Regions from separate parts of the Homo sapiens genome. Here regions 1, 2 and 4 are each linked to region 3. Evidence: fine-mapped expression QTL. A gene starts in region 3. Each other region holds a variant in brackets. All regions are shown on one strand. Distances are between the middles of the regions. Region 1 overlaps MED15 (mediator complex subunit 15). Region 2 holds the start of LOC124905085 (a long non-coding RNA gene). Region 3 holds the start of KLHL22 (kelch like family member 22). Region 4 overlaps KLHL22 (kelch like family member 22).

The links. PIP is the estimated chance that this variant, and not a neighbour inherited with it, causes the effect.
Region 1: its variant is fine-mapped to the expression of KLHL22 in whole blood (TOPMed, PIP above 0.99).
Region 2: its variant is fine-mapped to the expression of KLHL22 in whole blood (TOPMed, PIP above 0.99).
Region 4: its variant is fine-mapped to the expression of KLHL22 in whole blood (INTERVAL, PIP 0.94).

Annotation. Positions count from the first base shown.
Region 1 is chr22:20,529,780-20,537,779 of GRCh38, forward strand. It overlaps MED15 (mediator complex subunit 15), which reads left to right. Exons shown (of 18, transcript NM_001003891.3): 2 at 7,338-7,425. Among named protein-coding and RNA genes, the nearest start is that of MED15, 26 kb to the left of the region's middle. RefSeq lists enhancers at 381-1,368, 7,777-7,946. The variant A/G (reference allele first, on the strand shown) is at 3,014.
Region 2 is chr22:20,452,998-20,461,132 of GRCh38, forward strand. KLHL22 (kelch like family member 22) reads right to left here. Exons shown (of 7, transcript NM_032775.4): 5 at 4,811-5,003. LOC124905085 (a long non-coding RNA gene) reads left to right here and starts at 7,978. Exons shown (of 3, transcript XR_007068014.1): 1 at 7,978-8,109. It also overlaps the pseudogene KLHL12P1. RefSeq lists enhancers at 2,349-2,518, 3,267-3,768 and a silencer at 6,733-6,931. The variant C/T (reference allele first, on the strand shown) is at 3,468.
Region 3 is chr22:20,490,986-20,499,120 of GRCh38, forward strand. It overlaps KLHL22 (kelch like family member 22), which reads right to left and starts at 4,810. Exons shown (of 7, transcript NM_032775.4): 1 at 4,775-4,810. LOC101928824 (a long non-coding RNA gene) reads left to right here and starts at 4,928. Exons shown (of 4, transcript XR_007068011.1): 1 at 4,928-5,702; 2 at 7,682-7,806. RefSeq lists a silencer at 4,470-5,129 and an enhancer at 5,324-5,976.
Region 4 is chr22:20,467,704-20,475,838 of GRCh38, forward strand. KLHL22 (kelch like family member 22) reads right to left here. Exons shown (of 7, transcript NM_032775.4): 3 at 3,647-3,812. LOC124905085 (a long non-coding RNA gene) reads left to right here. Exons shown (of 3, transcript XR_007068014.1): 2 at 5,433-5,748; 3 at 7,505-7,581. It also overlaps the pseudogene RNY1P9. Among named protein-coding and RNA genes, the nearest start is that of KLHL22, 24 kb to the right of the region's middle. The variant A/AGATG (reference allele first, on the strand shown) is at 3,083.

The DNA of each region.
Region 1 (8,000 bases), 39 kb after region 3:
TGGGGTTTCACCATGTTGGCCAGTCTGGTCTCGAACTCCGGACCTCAGGTGATCCACCTGCCTTGGCCTCCCAAAGTGCTGGGATTACAGGCGTGAGCCACTGTGCTCAGCTAATTTTTGTATTTTTAGTAGAGACGTTTCACCATGTTGGCCAGGCTGGTCTCGAACTCCTGACCTCAAGTGATCCACCTACCTCCGCCTCCCAGAGTGCTGGGATTACAGGCGTGAACCACCACACCTAGTCCAAATCTTTTTTTTAATATGGGAAAATCTTTTTTCCTTTATAGTGTCTGCTTCTGGTGACATGCTTAGGAAACCATCATCCTGATATTGTATAACTCTCCTTCTGTTGTCTTGTGGTCCTCTGTGATTTAGGTTTTTAAACACATAGGGTAAAGGGTCCCACATACAAGCTGTGGGCTCCTGTCCCAGGTGGGCAAGCAGGCTGCACACACAGGCAGCAATTTACTGGGAGGCTTCTTGGGTGGGGTGAAGTGGAGCTGCCAAAAATTTATTCTGCCCTATGAGAGTTCACTTGATTGATAGATGTTGTGTTTCTCAAAATTAGAAAATTAGAAGAAACTCACAGAAGTTTCCTTCGAGCAGAACATAAATCGGCTGAGAGGAATCATCCTGCCCCCCTGAGGTCAGGAGGGTGAATCTGTGCCCCAGGGAGGAACGCACCTTCCTGCTTTAGACACCAGCAGAGGACAGAGAAGCTGGCTGTCCTGGGAATTCATGCCCTCATTCAGCAATGGGAAAGCAGTTGGACCAGGGAAGGGGGCCTGGCAGTGTGGCAGGGGGAGCAGTGGTAAAGAGGGTGGGGTCAGGGGAGAGGCCTCACTGAGAGGGGAGAGGGTCCTTGGTGGGAACCAGGGCGGTTGTGGAAGGAAGAGTCAGGGCGTGGAGCAGAGCAGAGCGGGAGTTGGGGTGGGGAGGCCAGTTCATGCCTCATCAACATGCCTGTGTGAGTGTCCTTCTTGCGGGCGGTGGAGCTGGCCTCAGGGTACACTGCAGGTGACTCAGAGCTCCAATGGGAGGGTGGCTCTGCCTGAGGGAGCTGCACATGCTCATTGGGCCATCGTCTGCTGAGGAGGGGGCAACAATAACCTCAACACATGGCGGAGGTGTTTTGGGATGCATCCTATTGCACATTTGGGCAGGTTGTTGCCTGACTTATTTCTTTAACGCATACCTAGCACTTCCTGTATGTCCAGTGCCTTATAATATTAACTACTATCATCCTCAGGGCTACCCGTGAGGTCGGCACTGTCCCCACCCTTTGTGCAAAGGAAGGATAGGGAGGCGCTGCCAGATGGGTTGAGGGCAGACCGGGGCAGCTTGCCTCAGGCCTCCCTGGCCTTAGCAGGCTTTAAGTTTGATGCCCTGTGCTCCTTCCCTAGGAAGCTCAGTTTGCCAGTTTTTTGCTTTATCTTAGTCTCATTCAGATTACAAGGACTGGGACTGGACTCCTGTTGCCAGTTTCTCAATTTGGAATAGGAAGGAGGTGAGGAACAACAGGCCCATGCTGGGCAGAAGCCCTGCAGACCAGGCCAACAGTGGGCCTCTCCTCACTGCCTGGCCCTGTCTGTGCACCTTCGTCCTGGCCACAGCCTCTCAGAGCCCCTCCTTTATGAAGAGGTTACGCTTTAGGGGAGGGAGTGCCTCTCCCAAGACCCAGAGCTGGTGAGTGGCTAGGTTGGAATTTGAGCCCAGGTCCCTCCTCCCCTGTCTGCTTCCTGCCAGGCCCAGCTGCCTGCCCCAGCACACGCCTTCTCCCAGGCACCCTGGCCTCCACTGCCAGGACGTGCCTGTTTGAGGCCTGGATTCCCCCATGGCTGCCACGCTGATTCTCCGTTCTGCACGTCGTGTCCCATCAAAATGCATGACAGTACCACTCCTTGTGTTAAAAAGAGCCAGTTATTGTGCCTGGCAGTGATGACTGCCCACTGCACACAAAAGTGGACGCCGTTGTCTCTGCTCTCAGGGTGTTCTTAGTATAGTGGGGCTGGCACACAGAAACCAGAGATTCCTCCAGGAAGTGCCACAGACATGGGTGAGGTGGCTACAGGGTTTCTGTGCAGCCGACAGCAGGGGTGCCTGGGTGGAAGCAGGGTGGGAGGCCCTAACAGGCCTGATGGGATAGTCAGGCAATGTGCCAGGTAGTAGGTCATCATCCCTGGGGCCCTGGGGAGAGTGTGTGGGGCAGGCGCAGGAGCAGGCTCCTCAGTGGGCTCCTGGACAGGCTGCCTGCTCTGCTGGTGAGGAGCGAGGCTCAAAGCAAGCAGGGGCCTGGGTTGCTTCCCACACTCAGTGGCAGTTGCTCACTGGCAGTCATGTGACCTGGGGAGCTGGCGAGGGCGTGGGGGTAGGAATGGGAACGGGAGACAGAGGCCCTTTGGGAGGAATTGCCACAGATGCAGTGGGAGTTGGGGCAAAGATTTGAACTTTGGAGAATTAAAGGTGGCAGTCAGAAAGTGAAGGGAGTTCCCAAGTTTCTGGGATGGGCACTTGGTGCTGGGAGATGAAGACACGAAGAGCTTTTCTTGATGTATCCCTGCTGGCTGCTCAGGCAGGGTCGGGCAATGCCATTAAGACACACTGTGTTCTGGGAACAGTTCTGGACAGTAAGGACATCCTCAGACCCCTTAGTGGGGGAGCTCCAAGGGCCTGTAATGATGAATCGGTCCCCTGGGAGGCTTCAGTCTAAGCTAGATACCAGTTGAACCCTGACTGAGTACACAGACATAGCTATGGCAACCAGCTAGACCATGGCCAAAGGCAGAGCATTGGAGCCCAGTTCACAGCAAGGGACTGTGTGCTCTGAGCCGGTAACAGTCCTTGTGTTCAGAGGTCTGGCTGGTCGCAACCAGGGAGTGGCCCCCAGCCCCCTTCCTCAGCTAGAGCGAGCACCACCCAGGCAGCCTTGGGTTCTTTGGTGGCCGCCTCATAGGCCTGTACTGTTTGTGAACCTGTTGCTTATGTTGGACAGGACTGTGGCAGGACAGCCATC[A/G]AGGGTCTTCCCTTGTGAGCTGACACCAGTCTGCTCTTTGTCCTCCTCTGGCTGGACAGGCCCTCGTCTTCCCGGCTTGCTTGTGTGGGGGAAGAGCTCACTGTGACATGTGGGTTCTCTGTTCTTTGTCTCAGGCTGTGCTCCTTACTCCATGTTGGGGGCTGTCTCCTTGTGTGATAGTTTCCTTTCATTTCGTGACAGTGGCTCGAAGGGTTTTGTTTTCAGGAGACAGAGACTGAGGAGTAGCCATTCGGGTCTGGCTGCTCAGGAAGGCATGCTGGGGATGGCAGCAGAGCCCAGCTCAGGGAGATCAGAAGGGGGCTTTGGGAGCAGCCAGTGCTGTTCTGAAGGTGGGCCTGGGTCCTGCCTGCAGCCTCCCGCAGCGGGTGTGTTAGGTCTAAGGGAGGAAGGAAGGGGACTTGACCTCAGCAGGAGTGTGAAATGGGTACCCTCCTGGAGTCAATGTCCAGGCAGGGGATGCCTCTGAAAAGCGCCAGGCCAGCTGGAGAGGAAAGGGCAGGCATCTGCAGGGAAGTGTGGGGGATTAGCTGCAGAGTTCCTGGGTTCTTTTTCGCTTTGTCTCTATTTTGTGACACTTGATCTTCAAACTAGAAACAGGAGCAAAGACATTTTCAAAAATACAGTTGTCAGAACTGCAAAACCACACAGGGTCTGTTACTGGCCACCAAACCTGCTGGGCCTCCCTGGGTGGATGCTGTGGGAGAGATGTGGGAGTGACATGGCACAGTGCTGCTGTTCTGAGCGGTAGCCTTGCTGGAGGAGCGCCTTGCCGGAGGAGCACCTTGCTCCTTGGCCCCACTCTGACCCTCCGAAGCTCATGTGGAACTGGACATTTACCCCAACTCGGTTTCCTGGTGTTGGCCTGTCAAGACTTGCCTGTTTCTGGCCTCCAGCTTGGTCCATGCTCCTCAGGCTCTGAGTAGCTGACGGTGCCCACAGTGTCCATGTCATCTGTGACATTACCCAGGACAGGACAGGGCCCGTCTGCCAGTACATCCCCTGGTGTATGGTGCCACCTTGCCTTCAGCTCACCAAGCATATTTCTTCAACCTGGTCATCCCACCACCTCAGAGCTATTGCACTAAGCTGTGTTTCTAGATCTTGTCTCTCTGACTGTGCCAGGTGTCTCTGCTGCACCAAGACAGTGTCTGTCTGGGGCCTGCCAGTCTGCTGACACTCTCAAAAACGGCCAGTAGCAGCTCAAAAGGACTGCTTTTGTATCAAAGCCTGGCTTTGCTCTCTGATCGCTGCTGGTGGGCACAGAGCCCATCTGTGTAACTGGTTGTCACTCCCCAGACTCTTCTGCACCCTTCTTCCTCTCTGACTCCTGGCCACATCTGCCACCCACAGCCTCCCCACTCCTTACACAGCCAGCCTCCAGGCCGTCCTGCTTGGCCTGCAAATGCTCCCCTGCTGTTTCTACTGCTCTTCCCTGAGTCTCCCTATTGGTCCCAGTGCTTTGGGAGGCCAAGGTGGAGGATCACTTAAGGCCAGGAGTTTGAGACCAGCCTGGGCAACAAAGCAAGACCCTGTCTCTACAAAAAAAGTAAAAAATAAAAAAATTAGCCAGGCGTGGTGGCGCATGCCTGTAGTCCCAGCTATTTGGGAGGCTGAGGTGAGAGGATACTTGAGCCCAGGAGTTTGAAGCTGCAGTGAGCTGTGTTTGCCCCACTGCGCTGCACCTGTGAGAGAGTGAGACATTGTCTCAAAAAACAAAAGAAGAAAAAGAAAAAAGGAAGGTGGGAAGAACAAGTATGCCTTTGAAGGGCATACCTGCCTTGAGGGGCACAGATGAGGCAACCTTCAGAAAACAGGCCTGTGCAGCCACTTCTATCAGAAATGCTCACTGACTTCTTGGGGCCTAGCAGCTATCGTCTCAGCCTCTGGGTGTGGAGACCCTGCCCCATGCTAACCTGAGAGCATGAGTACAGGGTCCTCCCAGCCCACCCATGCCTCGCTTCCCCAGGACTCTGACCCAGTGCCGCGCGTGAGTTGGTTGTCATTATCCTCCTGGATTGTTAACTCTCTCATCTTTTGTGGCCCTGGTGACCTTTCTTACTTGTCTGTTCCACACCTGGATGCCTTGTGAGCAGAAACCCCTTGCTGCCTCCTCGCCTCCCTTCAGGCTTCAGGAAGCAGACAGGGAGGTAGGAACTCCAAGAGTGCAGGAGTCTCATTCTGTCGCCCAGGCTGGAGTGCAGTAGTGCCATCTTGGCTCACTGCAACCTCTGCCTCCAGGGTTCAAGCGATTCTCCTGCCTCAGCCTCCCGAGTAGCTGGGACCACAGGTGCCTGCCACCACACCCGACTAATTTTTGTATTTTTAGTGGAGACAGGGTTTCACCACGTTAGCCAGGCTGGTCTCAAACTCCTGACCTCAGGTGATCCACCTGCCTCGGCCTCCCAAAGTGCTGGGATTACAGACCTGAGCCATCGTGCCCAGCCCAAGAGTGCTTTTTGAATCTAGCAGGGTGGTAGGTCAATGTCATTTTGTTTTTCTTTTTACATTAAGACAGATGTATGCACCTCTCAGCATTAAACCTCCTTTCTGTGATGTCTTTAAGAATCACAGTCATATTGCTGTAGCCCCGTCTGTACATTCCTTCAGTTTCCTGAGGTTGGCTGGTTGCTGTTTGGAGTGGTCAGAATGCTTTCTAGCACGAGCTGGACTGGGCCTATTCAATTCACTCAGAGGCAAGGCCCCAGAGCCCTGACATGTTTGCTTGTTTCTTTTTTCTTTTGCTTTCTTTCTTTTTTTTTTTTTTGAGACGGAGTCTCGCACTGTTGCCCAGGCTGAAGTGCAGTGGCGCAATCTCCGCTCACTGCCAGCTCCGCCTCCCGGGTTCATGCCATTCTCCTGCCTCAGCCTCCCGAGTAGCTGGGACTACAGGCGCCTGCCACCATGCCCAGCTAATTTTTTGTATTTTTAGTAGAGACAGGGTTTCACTGTGTTAGCCAGGATGGTCGTGCTCGCCTGACCTCGTGATCTGCCCGCCTTGGCCTCCCAAAGTGCTGGGACTACAGGCGTGAGCCACCGTGCTCAGCCTGCTTCTTTCTTTCTTTTTTTTTTTTTTTTTTTTTTTGAGATGGAGTTTCGCTCTGTCACCCAGGCTGGAGTGCAGTGGCGCAATCTCGGCTCACTGCAACCTCCACCTCCCGGTTCAAGCGATTCTCCTGCCTCAGCCTCCTTTGTAGCTGAGATTACAGGCATGCGCAACCACACCCTGCTAATTTTGTATTTTTAGTAGAGACAGGGTTTCACCATGTTGGTCAGGTTGGTCTTGAACTCCTGACCTCAGATGATCCACCCGCCTCGGCCTCCCAAAGTGTTGGGATTACAGGCGTGTGGCACTGCACCTGGCCACTTGTTTCTTTATCAGCAAGCCCAGGGTGGGAGGCCAGGCAAGGAAGAGACCCATCCCACTGGCAAGAAGGCAGGCAGTGAGCACACCAGAGCAGTCCACCCCTGGGAGCCACAGGCCAGGCCTTTCTAACAGATTCACACTTGTTTTTGTCTTTCTGTGTGTGAGTGTGGGAGGTGGGGGTGGGGGTGGGTGGGGCAGCATGTGCTGCATTCGAGGGGTCTCCACCTTAACTGATGTACATGGCTCTTTATCCCCGTGGAGCAGCAGTGTGATGAAAAACTCTTCATAGGATTCTATCTCTTAGTACAAAATTGTTGGTAAATGGGTTTTTAAAGATATTTTTCACATTTATGTGGTCTTTCTCTTCTTGTCTCTAGCTAGAAGTGAAGTTGGAGCTTGTCTCTTTGATCCCACATATAGGACCTGCATTGTCCCACATAGGGACAGACCCTTGCCTTGGGAGGGACTGAGAGATGACTTCATGTGGCCCCTTCATTTTATAGGAGTAATCGAGTCTAGAACCAGGGTGCTACCATCTGGCAGAGTTCATGGGGAACGCAGGCCACTCAGAGAGCAGGAAATAGAGGCCAGCTGGCCACCCAGTAGTCTAATGCGTACTTCCTTGATCCTGAACTGGTTGTGAGCCATCCCTAGGGGCAACCCCTCCCCCGCCCCGTCCCTTCATGCCAGGGCTCTCTCTTTGCTTCATGGCGACCACCTTTCCTGTCCCTTTTTTCTGATCACCCTGCTCAGTGGCCTGTCATTGCTCTCTGTTGAGTGCCCCTTCCCATATGCCTCTCCTGGACCTCAGCCAGGCTGGTGTGCTGGCGATAGCACCTTGTCACCAGGGGCAGCTGCTATGCAGGGCCTGTTGGCCAGGGCCCTGCAGCGGTGGAGTCACTGGTGTGTGCAAACGTCTCTTCTCCTTTTGTGTTTCAGCGAGGATGCCATGAGGAAAGCTGGTGTGGCACACAGTAAATCCAGCAAGGATATGGAGAGCCATGTTTTCCTGAAGGCCAAGACCCGGGTAAGGCCCTAGTAAGTGGAGCCACTCTGGCAGAGAGACTTGGAGAGGAGAGCATCACAGACTCTGGAACCCCTCTGTTGGGTGTCCTAGGGTGTAGGGGTGGGGTGGTTGCTCATCGATTGATCACAGGCACAGTTGGTTTTGCCTGCAGCAGTCTGGGTCCTCCTGTGTGTCCATGGTACAGGGAGGGCACTTGGGTTGCAGGCCCAGCCTCTGGCCCCAGACCTCACTGCCGTCACCTTCCATCTGTGGTCAGCCCCTGTGAATCCTACAGGAAGCTTGCTCAGGCCCCTAGCTGGTCCTGTGGAAGGGATCAATGCCGTGAGCAAGAACCTGGTTTGTCCTCAGCCCCTCCTAGGGGTCCTTACCTAAGCCCTACAGGGCCCTGAGGCATGGGCCCAGAAGCATTCCTGTCCCCTTTTGCTAAGTGAAGAAGGTGATGCTTATCTAGAACTCGCCACAGGTGGAGTGGAGAAGAAGGATTTCCACTATATGTGGGCTTTCTCCCTGGGTGGGGCACCACACTGAGGGCTTTATGTGACCACCTCCTTTAATCTGTGTGTGCTCCCTGGGAC
Region 2 (8,135 bases), 38 kb before region 3:
ATCCTTTTGTTAGTTTCAGTACCTCAGCTATCAACATTTCTGAGCTATCATTCAATGTTCCTCTGTGTCATGGAGTGAAATTCTTGTTTTATGGGTATTGGGAGTGTGGGAATGTGATAACCTAAACAACCTTTGCTCTGAAATTCCATTTTTCCCTCTTTCCCTGAAGTGTACTGACCTGTACTACAGAGTTAATTTCTTTTGTATTTTTTTAAGAAAATATTAAAAATCAATGGTCTCAAAAAAAAAAGATTTTCTTCTTCTTTTTTTCTAGAAGTTTTATGGTTTTACATTTAACTCCATAAACCATTTTGAATTCATTTTGGTATATGGTATGAGACTTGGGTTGATATCCATTTTTTTGCCGACGCATGTCTAATTGCTCCAGTACTATTTGCTGAAAGATATCTTTCCTCCACTCAATTGTTTCTGCACCTTTGTCCAAAATCATGTGTAACATGACTGGGCATATTTACTCAGGTCTGTGGGTTTTCCATTCTGTTTCACTGATCTATGTGTCTATCACTGTATCCATACCACAGCCTTGATTACTGTAGCTATGTAGTAATCTTGAAATTGGGCAGACTCCTCCCATCTTATCGTTCTTTTTCAAAATTATTTGAGCTATTCTAGTTCCTTTGCCTTTATATATACATTTCAGAATAATCTCATTTACATCTAATGTCACAAGTAAAATCAAATCAAAATTAAAAAATTTATTTTATTTATTTTGAAATTTATTTTATTATTATTTTTTGAGACAGTCTCACTCTGTCGCCCAGGCTGGAGTGCAGTGGCGCAATCTCGGCTCATTGCAACCTCTGCCTCCTGGGTTCAATCCATTCTTGTGCCTCAGCCTCCCCAGTAGCTGGGATTACAGGTGTGTGCCACCACACCCAGCTAATATTTGTATTTTTAGTAGAGATGGGGTTTCACCATGTTGGCCAGGCTGGTCTTGAACTCCTGACCTCAAGCGATACACCATCCTCGGCCTCCCAAAGTGCTGGGATTACAGACGTGAGCCACTGCGACCAGCAATAAAAAAAAATTTTAGGCTGGATGTGATGGCTCACTTCTCTAATCCCTGCACTTTGGCCGAGGCAGACAGATCCCTTGAGACCAGGGGTTCAAGAACAGCCTGGGCAATATGGTGAAACCTTCATGATACTAAAAATATAAATATTAGCTGGGCATGGTGGTGCTCACCTGTAATCCCAGCTACTTGGGAGGCTGAGGCAGGAGGATCACTTGAACCAGGGAGGCAGAGGTTGCAGTGAGCCGGGGTCATGCCACTGCACTCCAGCCTGGGTGACAGAGCGAGACTCTGTCTCAAAAAAAATAAAAATAAAAAAATTTTTAAAAAGCTTATTGTGCATGTAAAAGAAGAGTTCATGAACCAGGAAACCCCAAACTGGAAGTGGTATGAAGCCCCAATTCACAGCAGTTACAACACAGTTTATAAAGCATGAATGAGGAAGAATATTGTTCCCTACTGTGCATGTGGAGCTGCATAAGCTTTCTTTGTAAAGCTATCACACTGAGGGAGGAAAGCTTAAGTTTCAGTTACATGGCTACAGGCAGTTGGCCTAGGGGTATATCCAAACCTCAGCTTCAATTTTCATTTTCCCTTAATAGTACAAAAAACCTTCCTGAAATTTTGATAGGAATACTAGTATTCCTGTATTAATACTATATCAATATGAGGAATTCTGTATTAATATATGTATTATTAATTGGGTTGGGAAAGAACTGACATTCTTACTATTCTTACTCTTCCAATCCATGGACTTGGTATGTCTCTCCATCTATTCACATCTTCTTTTATTTCTTTCATCGGCTTTTTGTAATATTCAGTGTACCAATCCTGTGAGGTTTTTTGTTTGTTTGTTTTGAGACGGAGTCTTGGCAGAGTCTTGCTCTGTTGCCCAGGCTGGAATGCAGTGGTGTGATCTCAGCTCACTACAACCTCTGCCTCCCGGGTTCACGCCATTCTCCTGCCTCAGCCTCCTGAGTAGCTGGGACTATAGGCGCCTGCCACCATGCTCAGCTAATTTTTGTATTTTTAGTAGAGATGGGGTTTTACCATGTTGGCCAGGCTGGTCTTGAACTCCTGACCTCAGGTGATCCCCCCCGCCTGGGCCTCCCAAAGTGCTGGGATTACAGACGTGAGCCACCGCGCCCTGCCAACATGACCTATCCTTTTTCATTCCCCAACATCTGATCCATCAGCAAGCCTGATCAGTTTACCTCCACGCTACACTCTGAACCCTCCCATCTCCCTCCAGCTCCACAGCTGTGTGCCAGCACAGGCTACTGCTGTCTTCAGCCCAGACCACGCAATGACCCAGGGCCAGCCTCGCTTGCTCTGCTCTTGATCCTTGGGCTTCCTTCTTCTACAAGCATGCCCCATGCTTCCTCTCCTGCTCAGGAAAAGCTGTGAGCCCCTCTCCTGCCCTGGAAGGTCCTTCTGCTAGACTAGGCAGATGGTTAGATATGAGCAGGGAAGTGGACTCCAGGTTGGCCTCAGCCCCTAGCATGGCCAGAGGGACTATGACCTCTGAGACATGTTAACCACACCTGGGGTTTCAAAAGTCCCAACCCCTCTTTCAGTTAAGCTTATCCAGCTCAAGTAGGAACTAACCCCACAAGGAACTTTCCACCCCCGGGAGCCTGTGTTGTATAGTTTGCCCCAGTTTTGCTTGCTTCGAAAGTAACCTTTTGTTCACTGCAGTGGTAAAAAACACACCTCCTGGGTGAAGATTTAAGATGCTAATGAGACATGCGATAAATACACTAGCACGTAGAGCCACAGTGCATGCGCTGCTAGAAGACCACCCAAACAAAACATGCTTATGAGTAACACCTCTTCCCGCCCATTTATGAATAATCATGTAAGCCTCCTGTAAGGGAGGTTTCCCATGCCAGTTGGGGCGATCTTATTCTGGAGCAGCCTGCTCTGACTCGGCCTTCAGAATGTACCTTCACTTTTGCAATAAACTGCCTTACACTTATCTTCGTTAATGCATGTCTCTTGCTTAAAGTCTTAACCAAGAAGACAAGAACCGAGGACACATTCCCAGTAACATTTCCTCCCTCTGTAAATGGCAGGTCTAATTGACATCTCCTCAGATGGACATTCCCCAAAAAGTCCCTCTAGATTCATCCTACCAGAGCCCCCTCCCTGGAAATCCTCCAGTTCAGCCCCCTCTTCATTTCACTTACCATAATTGTAACCACTTTACTGATCTGTTTTCTGGTTAAGAGTGGTTTCTCCTACAAGGCTGTAAACACCATGGAGTGGGGAGTCTTTCTCATTTCTTGTCACCACTGGATTCCCAGGACTTGGTACATGGTGCTTAGTAGTTGCGGAATGAATGCGTGCATGAAGGAACACCGGCAGCCACGATGCAGCTGGTTGAAAGCCAAGGCTGCCCCTCTGTGGCCAAGCTGGAGAACTGCTGCTTCCC[C/T]AGCTGCCGCAGACAAAGAAACTGCTAAGCCCCTCCCACAACACCCACCTAGGAGGCTTCCCCCAACACCCTTCCTGGAACAGAACCCAAGAGCCCTCCTTGTCCACTTGGTCTCAAGGACCTCCTGATCTTCTCCATGCAAAATCTGCTCCTTTCCCCAGGATGGGGGTACGGAGTGTCCTTCCAAAGAGGCTTCCTTCTCCCCAAAGAAGCTGAGAGCAAGGAGCAGGCCACAGCTTGCAGCTCACAGCTGCCCAAGAGACAGAAATCTGTGTGGGCTGTGTGAATGACCTGGATAAAGAAGAGCTGGATCCATTGAGGAGACACTAGCCCTGACCCCTGAAGTCAAAGTCTAAGTCCCTGGGGGAATTGGGGGTCATGAGAGATACTGGAAAGAGGCTTACAAAGGCCAGAGCTCTTGCTAAACTCCCTGAGGCAGTGCAGGTAGAACCTGCCCCCCATACCATCCTCTGCCTCTCAGGTGCTCGGTTATCCCCAAAGGTGTACCTGGCCCATAGCAGGTGCTCCACAAATGCTATGCCAGTACTAGCGGGGTGCCCTGCTAGGGTACCCCTAGTACTGCTAGGGTATGCCCTGTTCTCGGAGGCTGAGACCCAGGAAGTAGGGGGCCAGCAAGGCCTGTTCCTTCCCTGGGATCCCATGTCTGGTTGTTACACCAGGCCTGAGTACCCCAAAGTCGTAAGATAAAAGAGAGGCACCTCCCTAAAACATCATTTTTCCATAATGAACATAATTTTAAACATCTTCAAATTGGAATAAACCAAGGTATTATATAGGATGCACGTGATTTTTTTTTCAAGTTGTCCCAATATTCAAACATAGGATTTAATATAAAAAATAAAACCTTAGAGTGTTTCTTGGCTCTGGAAGGCGCCACCCTTCAGGGGACCTAGAGGGAAGAGGTCTGAGGATAGGCCAGTGAGCTCTCAGGGTCCCTTCCTGTTTAACATCTCTGGAAGTGTCCCAGCTCGTCTCAGCTGCACAAAGAGCAAATGTTCTATCCACATTTGAACTACAAGGTTTAAGCAGCTTGCCAGGGCCAAGGTGGTGTGACAAGGTCTCAGCATGTAAGACTCACAAGTGGGGCACAATTCTGAGCAATGGGGTCTGGATCCTTGATGAGCCTCCCCAGGTGGACTGGCTGAACCTCATGGGGCCTCATCAATGCATTCAATGCAGGGTCTCTGGAGAAGCATGGATTCTGCTCACTGAGCCTGTTTCTCTGACCTGGGACAGGCCTTGACACCTAGGCCTCTCACTCTTTGCACATCCTGGGGAAGGAAATTAGGCAGGAGAAGGCCCCTCTTCGAGGGCTTCCTTACCTCCCTCTTGAGTGGGGCCACGTATGCCCAGGAGTTGGTGGCAGGGTCGTAGCGCTCCACAGCATTCAGGTCATTGTGGTAGTCACGGCCCGCCACAGCGTAGATGTACCTGCCTACAACACACACGGACAGGTCGGCGTGCTCCTGCTGCAGGGACTGGATCTGGAACCAGCGGTTGTGCCGTGGGTCATACCTGTGCCGAGACATGAGGAAAGCACAGCACTGACTAGGCAGGGAGGCTGCTCCGCAGGCTTGCACCTCTTGTTCTGGTCCCATTTCTGCTTTGCCTCAGCCCAGCCTGAACCCTCCCCAACTACCCCACATACCAGTGCACACCGATCTACAGCCAGGCCCACAGGCTGTTACACACCTGAGCACAGGTGCTCCCCACCACACAGCATGGAAGGAATGGCCAGGAGCCTCCTGTGTTTCCACCTAACTGTCCACCTGGGCTGTCCAATGGCTCTTTTTTTTTTTTTTTTTTTTTTTTTGTGGAGAGAGGTCTCTCTGTCCCCTAGGCTGAAGTGCAGTGGCACAATCATGGCTCACTGTAGCCTCGACCTCCTGGGCTTAAGTGATCCTACCACCTCAGTCTCCTAAGTAGCTGGGACTACAGGTGCGCACCACAACGCCCGCTATTTTTTTTTTTTTTTTTTTTTTTGATAGAGACAAGGTCTTGACACCTGGGATATGGACTTAGGCAATCCTCCTGCCTCAGCCTCAATGGCTGTTCGTACAGCCACTTCCATCTCACTTACCTCATCTCATCATCCACATAGCCTTGCTCCCACTCAGGAGGGCCTCCAAATACAGCCTCTCCACTGGATGGGTGCCATCAGCCCCCTCATTGGCCTCCAAGCCTTGAACTTCCCCCAGCACTCCATCAGGAGTGGTCTTCTCAGGCACGCCCTGCACACAGCACCCATCATACCCTCAGCTTTGTCAACAGCCGCACACACAAGGCTCTGGTCATCGTACTTTCACCTCCTCCCACCATGCTGCCAGCCCCGCGTTTCCTGACCTCCCCTCCACTCAAGGTCTCCCTCTCTGGGAAAGTGGAAAGGGTTAACTCCCACCCTGGACTGCAGGCTCTGTAAGGGCAGGGTGTGTGAGATTCCAGGGACCCCCATGGGAGAAAAGGCACTAGACTGGTTGCGGCAGGCCCACGAGGGTGGAGGAGTCTGGCCAGGACCCAAGGAGGGCTCCTGGGCTGAGCACCAACAGGGAGCATGGCCTGCAATGTGGAGCAGAGATGATCACAGAGCCATGAGGGGCCAGGACCCAGTGAGCTCAAAGCCAGTATCTGAAGTGTCCTTGCCCAACAGCCCACAGATAGTTACAGCCTCTTTCAGACAAGTGTTTTTATTTCTGCAGAGGAAGACCTATTCCAAAGAGAACAAGTCTAACTTCAACTGGCTCACAAGAGAGTAACCAAAGTTTTCTTTGGCCTGTGCCCTATGCTGGTTAGTGAAAAGATCAGTTTCATCCTTTGCTTCCTGCAGCCCCTGCAGTGTGGCCAGCCCCTCCCCGCCGCCTACCAGGAATGCAGCAAACAGGAGCCTCAGAAGGCAGGGCCAACAAGAGAGGGAACACACACCTGGGTCTCCCTGACCTGGTGTGAATCCTGGGCTCTTCCCTGTCTAGCTGGGTGTGCCTGGGCATCAGTTTTAATCTCTTGGGATTCGCTCAGTTCTGCACCTGTCCAATGAGGTGATATCACCTGCCTAGAAAAGCTATCAAGAAGAATCATAAAAGACGAGCATGAAAAGTGTCCTTGTTAACTTGGGGGTTCTGATGGATCATGGTTCATTTCTATATTCCTAGACCTCAGTGTAGCCTCTGGCTCAGGACAGATTATGTTCTGTCTGCTGAATGAATTAAACAAAGGAGTAAGATTACCAGCAATGAATCATTCATTCACTCTACCAACATTCCCAGGTCTCCCACTGTGGATGGGGCACAGTGCTCAGCACTACATCCAGAGGGAGCCTCAAGAGGTCAGGGCCCTGCCTTCCCCTGCAGAATGGAAACAGGCTAACCAGAGCAAATGAGTGCTTAATATAATGACAGACACTGTGAAAGAAAGAAAGGGAGGTAAGAAGATGAGTGACCTGCTGGTCAGCGGGGCCTGGGGAGGGCAGAGCTCCCTTGCAGTGATCAGGAAAGGCCTCCTGAGAAGGCAGGGTCTGAGACCTGCATGACCTGGGGCACAAGCCAGAAGAAGGTCTGGCAGGGGACCAGCAGTCCAGGATTGGGGCACAGCACTCACAGGGGCCCCGTCAACTGGCTGGGATGGTGCTGTTCACTGCCTTTCCTGTGCGCCTTCCTCCTTTATATACAAGTCTCTCCTCTCTTGTGTTCAGTCTGGCTCAATCACCATCTGCACCCCAAGTGTCTGCAACCAGAGTGAGATAGGACCCTCCATGTGCTCCTGTTTGCTCCTTCGAGTCTATTGTCCTCACAGCTTTTTAAGCTGAGTTCATGTGGATTTGTGGCTTCAAATTTAAAGACACACACAGGGCCGGGCGTGGTGGCTCACGCCTGTAATCCCAGAACTTTGGGAGGCTGAGGCGGGTGGATCACGAGGTCAGGAGTTCAAGACCAGACTGTCCAATATGGTGAAACCCCGTCTCCACTAAAAATATAAAAAAATTAGCCAGGCATGGTGGTGTGTGGCTGTAGTTCCAGCTACTCGGGAGGCTGAGGCAGGAGAATCACTTGAACCCGGGAGGCAGAAGTTGCAGTGAGCTGAGATCATGCCATTGCACTCCAGCCTGGGCGACAGAGTGAAACTCCATCCCCCAAAAAAAAAAAAAAAAAAAAAAAAAAAAAAAAAAAAAGACACCAACAGTGATACCATATGTCAATAATTTAGACATAGCCAAAGTTACACTGATTTCTTATTTCCCTGTTGTGTCCTGTATCCCTCTTCTTCTTTATTGAATTAATTTTCTACTTTATGAGAATAAGTCCTCAAGTAATATTTTTCTAATAAAAATAAGCTTTATTTTTGCATATAAAGATATAAACAATTTTACTTATTGCTATGGACTAGATGTTTGGATTCCCCCAAAACCCCTATGTTGAAGGCCTAACCCCCATTGTGATGGTAGTGGGAGGCATGGCCTTTGGGAGGTGATCAGGTCATGAGGGTGGAGCCCCATGATGGGCTTAGTGCCCGAGGCTACAGCTCTTTCTCTCCACCATGTGAGAACACAGACGGAAAGGACCTTACCGGGACTAAACTGGCCAATACCATGATCTTGGACTTCCCAGTATCCAGACAGTGAGAAATAGAGGTATGTTGTTTAAGTCACTCCATCTA
Region 3 (8,135 bases):
TGTTTCACCTGTGCTTCTGACCAATAGGCTATAAATTGGGTTCCCAAGATCCCCTTCTTGGGTTCAACTAATTTGTTAGAGCGACTCACAGAACTCAGGAAAATACTCATGTCTACTGGTTTGTTATAAAGGGTATTGCAAAGGATACAGATGAAGAGATGCATGGGGCCAGACATGTGGGAAGTGGTGCAGAGCTTCCAGGCCCTCTCCAGGAACATCACTCTTTAGGAGCCTCCATGTGTTCAACTATCCAGAAGTTTTCCAAACCCAGTCATTCAGAATTTTTATGGAAGCTTCATTATGTAGGCATGACTGATTAAATCACTGGCCATTGGTGATGAACTTAATCTTCAGCCTGTCTCCCCTCTCCGGAGGTTGAGAGGTGAGGCTGAAAGTCCCAACCCTCTTATGCCTGCCTTGGCCTTTCCTGTCACCAGCCCCCATCCTGAAGCTACCTAGGGGCTGCTGGCCAGCATACAAAAAGGCATCACTCTGGAAAGTCCAAAGATTTTAGAAGTTGTATGCCAAGAAATGAGACAAGACCAAATATATATTTCACAATATCACAGTACTGAATACTATAGGCAACTGTAACACAATGGAATTTGTGTATCTAAACACAGACAAGGTACAGTAAAAATATGGGACCACCATCCTTCATGTGGTCTGGTCTGTCATTGACGGAAACATCACTGTGTGGCACATGATTATATATCTTTAAAAGAAAAAATGAAAAATATATGCTGATATAAAACTTGCCAAAAAGAAGAGGTCTCTCTCTTCACTACTGAGGCTCAGGGCCACCCCCAACCCCATCCCCTGGATGCTCTACTGCTTCCCATCAAACACACTCAGTTATCTGTGCCTGCCCCTGAGTCTGCCTCCAGGACCTGGGACCTCTATCCAGCCACCCACCCATTCCTTTCCCCCTCCTGGGCTGGCTCATCTTTCTCACCAAGGCCCCAGAGATGGCCACAGCCAAGGTGTATACCCCATGACCACCTCTCACTTAGGATTCTCTTGCCTGGAAACTCTGCTCTATGATAATTCTCCCTTTTCTGACCTCTCTCTTTCATCCCACACACCCTGCTCGAGCCCATCCTTCTTTCCCAGTGGTTCACATTCCCAGTTTCACCTACAGCTCAGTGCCTAATCTAGCTAGTAGCCCTCCAACTTGTCTAATTTTACTATCAAAGCTACCATTTCCATCTTGGAAACCTCACTGTTTTAATATTTTTCCTTTCTAACCCATGTGCCCTATGAACCTACTAGTTCTGATTCCTTCACCTCTCCTCCATCTCAGACAGCCACCCTCCACTCCTCCAGGGCCACCACTCTGGGTCAGACCACAGCAGTGATGCCCCTACCAGTTTCCCTACCTCTTGTCTCATCCTCCCCAGGCTGCTCTCCTTCAAGCCTTACCTACTCAGCCCCATCAGCAGTCCTTAGTCCAAAAGGGATACCTGTCATCCCCTGAACACCTTTAGTCACCCATCTAGGCCATTCTGTCTCTCATAGTCCCATATTGGTCAAGGTCTAGCTCGATTACTTCTCCCTCTATCATTGTACAGAGAACATGACAAATATGCCCCACCATTCAAACCTGCCCTTTTTTTTTTTTTTAGACGGAGTCTCGCTCTGTCACCCAGGCTAGAGTGCAGTGGTGTGATCTTGGCTCACTGCAACCTCTGCCTCTCAGGTTCAAGTGATTCTCCTGCCTCAGCCTCCCCAGTAGCTGGGATTACAGGCGTGCACCACCACACCCAGCTAATTTTCTTGCATTTTTAGCAGAAATGGGGTTTCACCATGTTGGTCAGGCTGGTCTCGCATTCCTGACCTCAGGTGATCCATCTGCCTTGACCTCCCAAAGTGCTGGGATTACAGGCATGAGCCACCGCGCCCGGCCCAAACCTGCCTATTTACCCACGACAAGGAGATTCCGGCTTCTTGAGGGGTGAGGTTTTATCTCACAAACATCTCAAAAGCCCCCATGGCTGGCTGTACCACTTGCTAATGACAGACTCTGGGCACTTGTCTCATATACCCACGCCTCAGCTTTCTCATCACCACCATGACCACCGCAGAGTCAAGAGGGCCTCCTTCTCTGAGGGTGACCTCCACAACTACCCCAATAGACATCAAGCCCCCAGGTGGATCCTCACCTTCCGTGAGCATAGTAGTGCCTCTGCTCTCTTGGGAAGGGATAAATGGCAGCTACTCCCTAAACCCATACTGCAAAAACAAGTACGGTAAAACAGAAAGACATCTTCCATGGGCAGGCAAAGCACATTTACCAAGTCCAATTTAAGAAACTTAGCTAGGGGCTAAGGGGGATATGCTGAAAAATGAATCAATTCTCTGCTGGGAAGGAGCACAGCACAGGGTGCAACATTTAAAACATTTAAAACCACATCTATACGGTTTTAAATCACCAAAACGTCCACCCTCAGGAGAACAGATGTCATGGCACAGTGATCTGACAGAACATTAGGCAACAGTCAAAATGCGCAAAGTGGCCGGGCGCAGTGGCTCACGCCTGTAATCCCAACACTTCGGGAGGCTGAGGCGGATGAATCACGAGGTCAGGAGTTCAAGACCAGCCTGGCCAACATAGTGAAACCCCATCTCTACTAAAAATACAAAAAAATTAGCCGGGCATGGTGGTAGGTGCCTATAATCCCAGCTACTTGGGAGGCTGAGGCAGGAGAATCACGCCACTGCATTCCAGCCTGCATGACAGTGCGAGACTCCGTCTCAAAAACAAAAAAACAAACAAAAAAACAATGTGCAAAGTAGGCTGGGCACAGTGGCTCATGCCTGTAATCCCAGCACTTTGGGAGGCCAACGTGGGAGGATCACCTGAGGTCAGGAGTTCAAGACCAGCCTGGCCAACATGAGGAAGCCCCATCTCTACTAAAAATACAAAAATTAGTGGGGCGTGGTGGCGCATGCCTGTTATCCCAGCTACTGGGAAGGCTGAGGAAGGGGGAAGCTGAGGCAGGAGAATCGATTGAACCCAGGAGGTGGAGGTTGCAGTGAGCCAAGATTGTGCCATTGCACTCCAGCCTGGGCGACAGAGCCAGACTTTGCCCCCCCCCCAAAAAAAAAAGTGCAAAGTAGGCTGGGCATGGTGGCTCATGCCTGTAATCCCAGTGCCTTGGGAGGTCCAGGTAGGTGGAGTTCAAGACCACCTTGGGCAATATAGCGCGACCCTTTCTCTACAAAAAATTTAAAAATTAACTAGGCATGGTGGTGTACACCTGTAGTCCTGGCTATCTGGGGTGAGACAGCTTGGGGTTCACTGCAGTCTCAAGCTCCCAGGTTCAAGTGATCCTCCCACCTCAGCTTCCTCAGAAGCTGGAACAACAGGAGCTCACCACTGCGCCCGGCTAATTTTTCAAATTTTCTTTGTAGAGAAGAGGTTTCACTATATGGTGTAGGCTAGAGTGCAGTGGTAGGGTCTTGGCTCACTGCAGCCTTCATCTCCTGGGTTCAAGCGATTCTCCTACCTCAGCCTCCCGAGTAGCTGGGATTACAAGCACGTGTCACCACACCCAGCTAATTTTTGTATTTTTAGTAGAGACGGGGTTTCACCATGTTGGCCAGGCTAGTCTCTCCTGACCTCAGGTGATCTGCCAGCCTTGGCCTCCCAAAGTGCTGGGATTACAGGCATGAGCCACCGCGCCCGCCCCCAGTCTCATATCCCCAATTTTAGTCATCACAAGCCAAGTTCCCCGTTTTGTACTGTTCGAAGTTTCAGTGGGGAGAAGAAAGGAAGCTTAATGTGCCACATAGCTACAAACTGAAGGATACAAGATGAATTTTTATGAAGTGATGGATGGCAGAGTCAAAATCATTTCAGAGGAACTTTCAGTTCGGTACGATTTTACTGAGTAGATACCCTCAGCCTTCTGTAGGGCCCCCGAACGAGCAGTATCCCCTCAAAGAAACTCAATCCTTGGCAGCATGAAGCAAGGTCGGCCACAAAGGCAAAGGGGGCGGCTGCGGTAGAGGAGAGGGAGTGGGTGCTGATTCCCAGCGGGGCAGCCTTCCAAAGGGTGCGCTCTGGAAGAATCTCCCAGGGAGCCGTCTTGGAGGCACTCGGCCCCGCGGAGGGCCGGAGCGAGGGCGCCCAGTGAGGAGCCCAGGCGGAAGGTGGCGGTGCCCCGCTGCCCGCCCCAGATCCACTCGGCTCGGCCCGCACCGGATCTAAAATGGTCAGAACTGGCAGCCGACGCTTCGCGCTCTGGTGATTTTGCACTGACAGCGCGATCTCCGGCTCCTCTCAGGAAACCGGGAGAGCTGGCAAGGCTGGGCTCCTACGGCTGCAGTCCCCGGGCCCGATCGAGGGAACTGAGGCTCGTCAGGCCGGCCCCAAATCGCCCGCCTGTTGCAAGGCCGCCCGCTCCAGCGCGGAGGGTCGCGGCCAGGAAGGCCGCATTCGGACCTGCCGCAGGCAACAGGGCCCGCCCGGGTGCCAGGAGGCCGGCGCGCCAGCAGCCGCGCTGAGGAGGCCTCGCACCCTGGCCCCTGGCCGAGCGCCAGATCCCGGCCCCTACGCGCCCGCGCCCGGGGATCCCGCCGGCCGCGTCCCCGCCACGTCAGGCCGCGGGCTCTCCTCAGGTCGCCGCCCCCGAGCCTCCGGCCCGCGCCCGCCCCCGCGCCCCTCGGACTCCGCGCCGCTAGCTTGTCCCCGGCCCAGCGATGCCTGCTTGCCGCCCGACCCCCGCGTTCGCTGCCGCCCGGCCCGTTCGGCTCACGCCTCGCAGCTGACCTGGTGCCGCCGCCAGCCGAGGCCGCACTCGCAGCTGGAGGGAGGCGGGAGGCGGGAGGCGGGAGGCGCGAGGCGGGAGGCTGGGCGAGAGGAGCCGGCGGGGCGGGGGCCTGGGCCGTCACGTGGGTGCGCCGCGCAGGCGCCGGGCGGGCCAGACGTAGGCCCGGGGGTTCCCGGCCTGGCCGGGTAGCAGCGCGGGGGCGGCCCTGGGGCGGGGAGACAGGGGGCGGCTCCACTCCGGCGCTCTGCGGAGGACAGCAGCGATCGCCAAGGCTCAGTGAGTCCCCGCACTAGCGCGGCACCTGGCACTTGGCGGGGCCGAACCAACGAATGAGCGAATTTGCCGAGAGTCGCCCCGTCTGAATCCATTGACTCTTTCCTTGCCTCGGTCCTACCCTCATTCCTCGACTCACTTCCTCCTGCCCTTCCTCACTATCTCCCTCCCCGCTCATATCCTCCCTCTCCTTTCCTCATTCCCTTCTTCACTCTCTTCTCTCCTCTCTTACTCCCCCCCTCTCATTCCCTCCCTCCTTCACTCTCTCATTCCTTCCCTTCCTATCTTACCCACCATTCCCTTCCTCCCTCACTCATTCACTCCCTCCCTGTCTCCCCCTCTCATCCCCTCCCTCTCTCATTCCCTTTCCCTCCCTCCTTAACTCTCGTTCTCTCCTCCCTCTCTCATTCCTTCCCTCCCTGTCTCATTTCCCCCCTTCTTTCCCTCCCTCCCTCTCCTCTTCTCCCATTGCCTCCCTCCCTCTTTGATTCCCTTCTTTCCTCCTCTCCTCCACTTGTTCCCTTCGTCACGCGCTCATTCCCTCCCTCCCGCGGCCTGCTCCTTCCCCGCTCCCTCCGCGGTCGGTGCCGCTGACCGTAGCGCGCCCCCTGCGGGATATCGGGGAGAATCGCTTAACACCGCCAGAGTGAACAGGTGCTAGTTTGTGTGCCCGTTCCTTTACTGAGATTTTGCAGTAAATCTAATTCCCAGTCTTAAAGCCTGGTCCCAGAGGTCCGTGCGCGGGTCTTGGCATTCATTGTTCTCCACCTCACCTTCGAGCAGGTCCCATCCTCCGAGGCGTATCCGTAATGGCTGCGCCCAGAGCTTGGAGCCACAGAGCCTCCTGATGGGATAAGGTTGGAGTGTCCCACACTGTGGTTTTGAGAGGGACTGTGAAGGGTGGAGAGAGTGGTAGGGGGAGGATGTGGCTGGAGATGGCTCATGGTTAAAAAGAAAGGTGGGGCCGGGCTTGGTGGCTGGCGCCTGTAATCCCAACACTTTGGGAGGCCGAGACGGGCGGATCACGAGGTCAGGAGATGGAAACCATCCTGGCCAACATGGTGAAACCCCATCTCTACCAAAACACACACAAAAAAACTAGCCGGTCGTGGTGGCGCGCACCTGTAGTCCCAGCTACTCGGGAGCCTGAGGCAGGAGAATCGCTTGAACCCGGGAGGCAGAGGTTGCAGTGAGCCGAGATCACGCGCCACTGCACTCCAGCCTGGTGACAGAGCGAGACTCCGTCTCAAAAAAAAAAAAAAAAAAAAAAAAAAAAATTGGTGGAAGGGGAATGTAAAAGGAGGAAAATACACGGAAGAGAATTGCTGTCCTGGCTGAGTCCAGAGAGATAACTGAGGGTCCCAGACAAGGATCAAGAGAACGGGATTGGCCTCCAGAGGCAGAGGTTCCAAATGGGAGTGGGCTTCCTCCTAGAAAGACTTTCTGGAGGAGACCCCCCTACTGTGTAACAGAGGAGGACTTTGGGATTAAGAAAAGCATTCCAGGAAGCCGACAGTGTCAGCAAACGTGGAGGTGAGATCCTTCAAAGTGAGTGGTGTGGAGGTTTCCAGAATTTTCTGAGCCTGAAGGGAAGGTTGGAGAGCAGACCCTGCCCTTTGGAGGCTTGACTTAGCCCTGAGGGCACCCTGTAGCCAGGGTGGGCAGATGCCAATATGGTAGAGACGAAGACTGAGTAGGGAGCCAGCCACAGTGCTGTGGTCTCAGGCAGGGAGTGAAGACCAGAGTGGAGCAGGCTAGAAACCTGGGAAGGAAGCAGGTTCCCCAGTATAAGCCCAGTGATGTGTGAAGAATGAGCCCAGGAGATGGGTGGGGAAGTAGGCCCACCCTGCCTACAGGGGAGCCAGAGCAAGAGCAGGTCTGGGGGAAGATGAGGCCCCCCTTGGCTCCAGGTAGGGGAAGACTGACCTCCAAGGCCCAATGGGACCAGGTGTACGGGTGGACCCAGAGAGGAGAGGAAAAGGAATCCTGGGGCAGCAACAAGAAGGCCACTGTGGTCTGAATGTCGGTACCCCCAAAATTCATATGTTGGAACTGAATCCTCAGTGCGATACTATTATAAAGTAGGGCCTTTGGGAGGGGTTTAGGTCATGAGGGTGAAGTCCTCACCATGGGATCAGTGTATAAAAGAGGTTCGAAGGAGCTCATCCCCCACTTTTGCCAGGTGAGGACACTGTAATAAGCACCATCTTCAAGGCAGAGAATCGGCTGGGCGCAGTGGCTCACGCCTGTAATCCCAGCACTTTGGGAAGCCGAGGTGGGAGGATCATGAGGTCAGGAGATCAAGACCATCCTGGCTAACATGGTGAAACCCCATCTCTACTAAAAATACAAAAAATTAGCCAGGCATGGTGGTGGGCGCCTGTAGTCCCAGCTACTTGGGAGGCTGAGGCAGGAGAATGGCGTGAACCCGGGAGGCAGAGCTTGCAGTGAGCTGAGATCGCGCCACTGCACTCCAGCCTGGGTGACAGAGCAAGACTCCGTCTCAAAAAAAAAAAGCAGAGAACGGACCCCTCACTAGACACTGGGGCTTTTTTCTGAAGGCTACTGTGTCATATAAAATTTATATTAAATAAATTGATATGCTTTTCTCTTGTTAATCTGTCCTTTGTTAGAGGGGTGTCAACCAGGAACCTTGTGATGCGTGAGGAAAAAATATTACCTTTTCCCCCTACTCTTTCTGGCACCCAACAAACAAGTGGGGTGGCAAAGACACCCCACTTGGGACAACTGGCAAAAGGTAAGCATTCTTACCAAGGTTAACTGTCCCATATCACTGCCTGTAGTACTCAGCTGAGAGTGGAAGGTAAAAACTTCTTGTCCCTTCCTTTCCAAATTCAAATTAGCAGAAGAAAACATTGTGTCTGGATTGTGACTCTTGCTTAAATTTGGTTGAGGGGTAACTGTTTGTTATTGATCCTTTCCTCCCAGGCACAGCTACCTCTTTCCTGTTTGTTTTATTTGTGTCCTGAGAGCTTGGCTTTATGACCAGTGAGAATATTCTCCCTGATCTCTGAATAGCCAGTGGGTGCAAGTGACAGCTTGCTTTAGGACAGCTTGCGTTAGGGT
Region 4 (8,135 bases), 23 kb before region 3:
GCTGGAGTGCAGTGGCACGATCTCGGCTCACTGCAAGCTCCGCCTCCCGGGTTCACGCCATTCTCCCACCTCAGCCTCCCAAGTAGCTGGGACAACAGACGCCCGCCACCACGCCCGGCTAATTTTTTGTATTTTTAGTAGAGACGGGGTTTCATCGTGTTAGCCAGGATGGTCTCGATCTCCTGACCTCGTGATCTGCCCGCCTAGGCCTCCCAAAGTGCTGGGATTACAGGCGTGAGCCACGGCGCCCGGCCAAGGTATTTAAAGCTTATCAATAAACACTAACTATAACTTTTTTAAAATTCAAAAGACATCTAATATTGCTTGCAAGGTGACATGCTAAGAGCTGGATGAGACCTACCAAATGTCAGGCAGGTATGTGCCCTACATGAGGTATCCCCATGGTGCTTTGCTAGGCCCTGACCAGCTTCACTTGACCTTCTTTTTTCCCTTTTTGCCAGTCTTCTGCTTTGCCACTTCTTCCCAAACTACTAGGTTTTCCTAAAATTCTGGTTTGTCATGGGCCAGGGTCCTGAAGACCAAGTTTTGGGCAGAATGTGAGCACAAACAGCCCTGAAGAAGCCTGGGCAGCAGCAGCTCCTTGAGAGGACCCTGCTGACTCTCCTTTCAGTCCTATTTTTAGAGCAGTGGGCCTTCTGTTCAGTGAAATCTCACAGAGGAACCAGCCTGGGCTCAGGATGTGCAAAAGCCCCATACGAGGCTCACAGAAGGGACTGCATTTGCTTGGGGTAACCCAATAGGACAGTGTTACTGGGAATCAGACTCAGGCCTCTGGGGACACCGTGAAGAATCTGGTCCCAGGCCTACTGCAGGGCACAACACATGGGGGAAGCCTCCAAAAGTCACTAGCTATGTGAACATACATGATTCTACAGGCCTATGGACTTGACATGGTTATGCCAAGTAAAACCTGCTATAAAACAATATTGTGAAGAAGCCTGTTTTTTTTTGTTTGTTTGTTTTTTGTTTTGAGATAAGCTGGCATGTAGTGGTGTGGTGATCACAGCTTACTGAAGCCTCCACCTCCTGGGCTCAAGTGATTCTCCCACCTCAGCCTCCCGAGTAGCTGGAACTACAGGTGCATGCCACCATGCCCGGCTATTTTTAAAGTGCTTCTGTAGAGGTCTCGCTTTGTTGCCCAGGCTGATCTCAAACTCCTGGCCTCAAGCAATCCTCTCACCTTGGCCTCCAAAAGTGCTGGGATTACAGGCATGAACCTCCAAGCCTGGCCCAGAAGCCTGATATGTTAAAAAACTAAGATAGGCTGCTGCCTCTGAGATGACCTCTGAGGCACTGGGGGAGATGACCCAGGGCTGTCGGGAGCACTGGCCAAACCAACAGAGAGAGACTGCAGGCCTCCAAGCTGACTGGTGAGAGAGGGAAAGTGATGTTAGAAAGATGATCTGGTTTCAGTGTGTGTGATCACTGCAGGGAGAAGAAAGAAATGGCAGAAACATACAGATGGAGGCCAGGCAAAAGGGAAGGAAATGGAAACACAGAACAGAGATGGCTACAAGCAATACCGAGAAGGATGACCTGTCCTCACATGGACGCAGGGAATTAAGAAGGTGGACGGGCTCAAGGAGCCACTGAGGTTGAGCCCAGGGAACTGGCAGGATGGTCACAGGACACACAGAGCAGGGGGACTGACAGGGGAGCTCCGGGAGAGTGGCAGGTGTGGAGGAGGAGATAGGACAGCTGGACCTGAGCCATGCTGGGGGAGATGTTTCAGAGGCAGCTGAATCAGGAGTTAACTGCTGCCAGGGTGGAGAATTGGATGAGGGTTCCCAAAGCAACAATGACAGGGATGTGGGGACAGAAGAGATCTCTAAATAAAAGAACAGGGGGAAATTCTTTTGTTGTAAAAGCCAACTCCATCTACTCACCATGCAGGTATGGTGAGACAAGTCAGTCATCTCAGATCAACCCACCCAGCATCCAGGTCCTATCCACCAATCTGAGAACAGGGCACAGGGAGGCTGCCAGGGCCCTGTCACATGGGGTGGCACCTCCACATGCCCCCGAACAGGTTGGTTTTCCTGTGACTTGAGTTGTTTTTTTTTAATTGCGTCAAACCTGCTCTCATGGGAAGAAAGGTCAGAATGATGAACTTAGCATAGCATTTTGTTTCACTTTTAAGAAATGTGGGAAGAGGTGACTGTCAACTCCTATCAGGCCTCTGCCTGATAGCTCAAAGGCACCTGCAGGCCCAGTCCCGTGTAACTGCACCCACACCACTGAGAATAATCATCCAAAACATAAGTCACACTGTCAAAGCCTCAGAAAACTTTTTGAATTCTGCAGGAAAACAAGTACTTAAAGTTCAATAACAGGTTGGGTACAGAGGCTCACACCTGTAATCCCAGAACTTTGGGAAGCCAAGGTGGGAGTATCACCTGAGGCCAGGAGCTTGAGACCAGCCTGGGCAACATAACAAGGCCCCATTCCTATAAAAAAATATATATATATATAATATCAGCTAGGCACAATGGCACGCATCTTTAGTCCCAGCTACTCAGAAGGCTGAGGCGGGAGGACCACTTGAGCCTAGGAGGTGGAGGCTACAGTGAACTATGATCATGCCATTGCATTACAGCCTGGGTAACAGAGTGAGACCCTGTCTTTAAAAAAAAAAAAAAAATAGGCCAGGCGCAGTGGCTCACACCTGTAATCGCAACACTTTGGAAGGCTGAGGTGGATCACTTGAGGCCAGGGGTTCAAGACTAGCCTAAGCAACAAAGCAAGCCTCTATCTCTATAAAAATAATTTAAAAATTAGCCAGGTGTAGTGGCACATGCCTATAGGTCCTAGCTATTTGGGAGGCTGAGGCAGAAGGATTGCTGGAGCCCAGGAGGTTGAGGCTGCAGTGAGCTGTGATCGTGCCACTGCACTCCAGCCTGGGCAAGAGAGAGAGAGCTTGTCTCCAATAAATTGAATGAGTGGATGGATGGATGGGTGGATGGATGGATGGATGGATGGATGGATGGATGCATGCATGGATGGATGGATGGATGGATGGATGCCTGCCACCATGGATGGATGCATGCATGGATGGATGGAT[A/AGATG]GATGGATGGATGGATGGATGGATGGATGGATGGATGGATGGATGCATGCATGCATGGATGGATGGATGGATGCGTGCATGCATGGATGGATGGATGGATGGACAGACAAATAGATAGATAAAGTTCAGTAACAAAACACATAAGTTTTCAAGAGACTGAAGTGGCCCAGTGAGGGGACAGGCAGGAAGGGCCCTGGCAGCAATGCTGGTGGATGCTCCCCATTGCCAGACCCCAGAGCACACAGGACGTCCACATGCAGCCTCGGGTCAGCCTACCTGCTTATGTGCAGGATGCTTTCAATGACAGGGAGACTCAGACAGTGGGGAAACAACCAGCAATAGAGAAGAGGGCAAAGGCAGAGGCCTGGGGTGTCTAGAGCGGCTCTGCTTGAGCTCCAGGAACAACTCCAGAGTCTTCCCCACTTCATGGCCTTCGTCACTGCTTGGTCTCCTCACATTCCTGACCCATCTTCAAGCCAATGCTAGTGCCCGGCAGGCATCATGGGCATCTCAGGGAACCCCACCTGGGTGTGGGTCTGCCTTGCTAGATGAGACATGCCTCACCTGAAGCTGGCAGGCAGCCACCAGTGTCTCTTGTACATTGCTCAGGCTGAGCTCCAGCTCGGAGGTGTATATGAAATGTAGGATTTGGCACATAGCATTGTAGGACACACCGTGGATCAGGACCTCTTCCTGTTCCATCTCCTTCAATCCCCCAGCAAACATTCCTCTGCAAAGTGAAGACACAAGAAAATGGAGTTATACCAACAGGGACTTAAGCCCATGTTGCCAAGAGTGACAGCATTCAGAGAAGAACCTGGCGCTGGTGGCAGGGCCCTGGTAGTGGGCTGACCCACTCTGTGCTCTGAGTGAACTGTGTGCATGCATGAGCCATCCCACAAAAGGATCCTGACGAAGTCTGGGCAGCCATCCTGGAAATTGTCCTGTTTCCCTTTTCATGGGCCCAAGGAGTCCCATGTGAGCTTCGGGAGGTGAGGCCACAAGCAGCTTGCTTCTGCTGTGTTCATCAGTGCAGTTCCTGGATCGGAGCAGTAGCAACTCCAGAGCACATTTCAAAGCAATGAATTAATTAATGGGAAACTAATAAAAGTCATTTCATTCAATGTATATTTATGGAGTTCCTACCAAATGCCAAGTATCATTCAAAGAGCAGAAGGAGGCCAGGCACGGTGACTCACACCTGTAATCCCAGCACTTTGGGAGGCCAAGGCAGGCAAATCACTTCAGGTCAGGAATTCGAGACCAGCCTGGCCCACATGGTGAAACCGCGTCTCTACTAAAAATACAAATATTAGCCGGGCATGATGTTGTGCATCTGTAGTCCCAGCTACTTTGGTGGCTGCGGCACAAGAATTGATTGAACCTGGGAGACGGAGGGTGCCATGAGCCAAGATTGCACCACTGCACTCCAGCCTGGGCAACAAAGCAAGACTGTCTCAAAAAGCAAAACAAAACAAAAAACAAAGAGCAAAAGGAGTTATAGTGAAGTAAACTGGTAAAATAGCTGGGCGCGGTGGCTCACGCCTCTAATCCCAACCCTCTGGGAGGCCAAGGCAGGCAGATCCCTTGAGCCTAGGAGTTCAAGACCAGCCTAGGCAACACGGTGAAATCCTGTCTCTACAAAAATTACAAAAATTGGCCGGGCGTGGTGGCTCACGCCTATAATCTCAGCACTTTGGGAGGGCAAGGCGGGCAGATCACCTGAGGTCAGGAGTTCAAGACCAGCCTGGCCAACATGGTGAAACCCCGTCTCTACTAAAAATACAAAAATTAGCTGGGTGTGGTGGCGGGCGCCTATCATCCCAGCTACTCAGGAGGCTGAGGCAGGAGAATCGCTTGAACCCGGGAGGCGGAGGTTGCAGTGAGCCGAGATCACACCACTGCGATCCAGCCTGGGTGACACAGCAAGACTCTGTCTCAAAAAACATATATACATATATAAATAAATGCTAAGAAGGAACCCAGCAGGGCATCTGACCTGAGAGTCACTGGTTAGAAGAGGGGTAGGTGGAATGATGAGAAGGAGCAGGGAAAGCCCCATCTGAGGAACTGAGACCTAAGGATAAGGCTGAGAGGGTGTAGGCAGCCGGGGAGGGAGTTCCAGGTGAAGGAGACAGGTGTACAAGTTCTGGGGCAAGGCAGAGCTTGGCATGCAAGGCAGCCAAGATGATGACGAAGTGAGCAGAAAGTGGGATGGGCAGGCAGGCCTTGGAGCCAGGTCCCCCTACCTCTAGGGTAGGTACAGTCCAGATTGAAATCTGAGCATTATGGGATGCTCTTGAGGAATTTACCCACAGAGTGATGTGAACTGACTGGCTTTCCGACTCAGGTGCTGGAGGAGGAGCCCCTGGAAGACCAATTAGGCCTGAGATTCCTGTGGGCCTGGAGGCCAAGGGTGACCCTGGCCCTGGGGAGGGCATTGCAGCTAGAAAGCAGTAGCTGAGACTACCCTGGGACACGGCACAGAGAACCTACTGACAGACTGAATCTAGGAGGACCTGGGAGGACTCAAGGCCCTCTGCTGGGCCGAAGAGGACCCTTTACTGATGGAAGAAAATCTGGACAGCTGGGAGTCCCGTGATTGTGTGATCAGTGTGAGATACCTGTGAAACCTCCAAGTGTAGACACTGATTAGGTGTTTGGAGGTAAGAGGCTGGCAACTGGGGCTGAAGTTTAAATATGACAGCAACATGAAGATTATAAGAGAAGCTATTTTTACATTTTATTTATTTTTTTGACTAGGTAATACATATACATGCTACCAGATTTAAAATACAGTATAGGTTAGGCCGGGCACAGTGGCTCACGCCTGTAATCCCAGGACTTTGGGAGGCCGAGGCAGGCCGATCATCTGAGGTTGGGAGTTCGACACCAGCCTGACCAACATGGAGAAACCCCATCTCTACCAAAAATACAAAATTAGCTGGTCATGGTGGCACATGCCTGTAATCCCAGCTACTCAGGAGGCTGAGGCAGGAGAATTGCTTGAACCCAAGAGGCGGAGGTTGCAGTGGGCCAAGATCGTGCCATTGCACTCCAGCCTGGGCAACAAGAGTGAAACTCTGTCACACACACAAAAAAAATACAGTATAGGTTGTGGTGAAAGTCCCCTTGCCTCTGCTCCCAGACCATCAGTCAGTTCCCCTCCCAGGGCCACACTATCCTCAGGGCAGTCATATTCCACATCTCACTTGGCTTTTTTCTTTTTTTTGAGACGAAGTCTCACTCTGTTGCCTGGGCTGGAGTGCAGTGGTGCGATCTTGGCTCAGTGCAACCTCCGCCTCCTGAGTTCAACTGATTCTCCTGCCTTGGCCTCCCAAGTAGCTGGGACTACAGGTGCCCCCCACCACGCCCAGCTAATTTTTTGTATTTTTAGTAGAGACCGGGTTTCACCGTGTTAGCCAGAATGGTCTTGATCTCCTGACCTCGTGATCTGCCTGCCTCGGCCTCCCAAAGGGCTGGGATTACAGGCGTGAGCCACTGCACCCAGCCCGGTTTTTACTTAACAATATAGCTTGGAGACTGATCCATGCCCATGTACGCAAGACTGCCTCACTCTTTGCAAAGGCTGTCTCACTTTTTTTATTTTATTTTATTTTTTTAAGATGGAGTTTCGCTCTTGTCGCCCAGGCTGGAGAGCAATGGTGCAATCTCGGCTCACTGCAACCTCCGCCTCCCGGGTTCAAGCAATTCTCCAAACTCAGCCTCCCGGGTAGCTGGGATTACAGTCCTGCGCCACCATGCCCGGCTAATTTTTGTATTTTTAGTAGAGATGGGGTTTCACCACGTTGGCCAGGCTGGTCTCAAACTCCTGACCTCAGGTGATCCACCCGCCTCAGCCTCCCACAGTGCTGGGATTACAGGCATGAGCCACCGCGCCCAGCCAGCTGTCTCACTTCTTTAACCCATTTCTACAGGGGTATATTTAGGTTACTTGTAATTTCCAGTTATTTCACATGATGAACATCCTCACCCTTACAACATGCTGAGTATGCATATGCCAGGATTAAGTCCCACAAATACAGTTGCTGGGTCGAAGGGTTTACATACATTTATACTTTGATAGTATTGTCAAGTTGCTGTTTTTATATCATTCCTGATAGCAGGGCCTGGTGCCTGCACCCTCTACCCCCAACCCAGGAAGACACCAGCTCTAACTCACCACCACAAAAGGGAAAAACCTTATCACATAAGGTACAGAAAATCTCCTTATATGTTAAAGAGCCATTTCCATTTTCTTTTCTGAACAGTTCAGATTCTTAGTCAGTTTTCTGTTAGACTGTCTTATCAATTTGAAGAAATCTGCCCTTTCTTTGATGAGGAGTTTCCCCGATCTTTTGATTTTGTATTGCTTTTTTGCCATGCAGAAATTTGTCTTTTTTTTTTTTTTTTTTAAACAAGTCTAGTCAACTGCAGTAGTGAGAAGGTGAAAAAGTAGAACCTGGAGTTGGATCTGTGACTGTGAACAATCAACTGAGGTAACTCACACTACCTTCGGACCAACCTATCTTCGTTTTCAATGTTGTCAAATTTACCATTTACTTGCCTCTGAGTTTTGTGTCAAACTTAGAAAGGCTTTTTCTTTCTGAGATTATTCAGAAAACATTTCCGATATTTTCCTCTAGTGTTTTTATTATTGAATCTTTCACATTTAAAACTGTTGATCCACCTGTAATTTATTTTGGTATAAGGTATGAAGCAAGGGTCCAACTTTGTTTTTCTAGATGGCAACTCTGTCGTCTTCCCTCCTTCCTCTAATTTTTTTTTTTTTTTAAGACGAAGTCTCACTCTGTTGCCCAAGCTGGAGTGCAGCAGCGCGATCTCGGCTCACCACAACCTCCACTTCCCGGGTTCAGGAGATTCTCCTGCCTCCCAGCCTCCCGAGTGGCTGGGATTACAGGCATGTACCACCACACCCGGCTAATTTTGTATTTTCAGTAGAGATGGGGTTATCACTATGTTGGCCAGGCTGGTCTTGAACTCCTGACCTTGTAATCCGCCTGCCTTGGGCTCCCAAAGTGCTGGGATTACA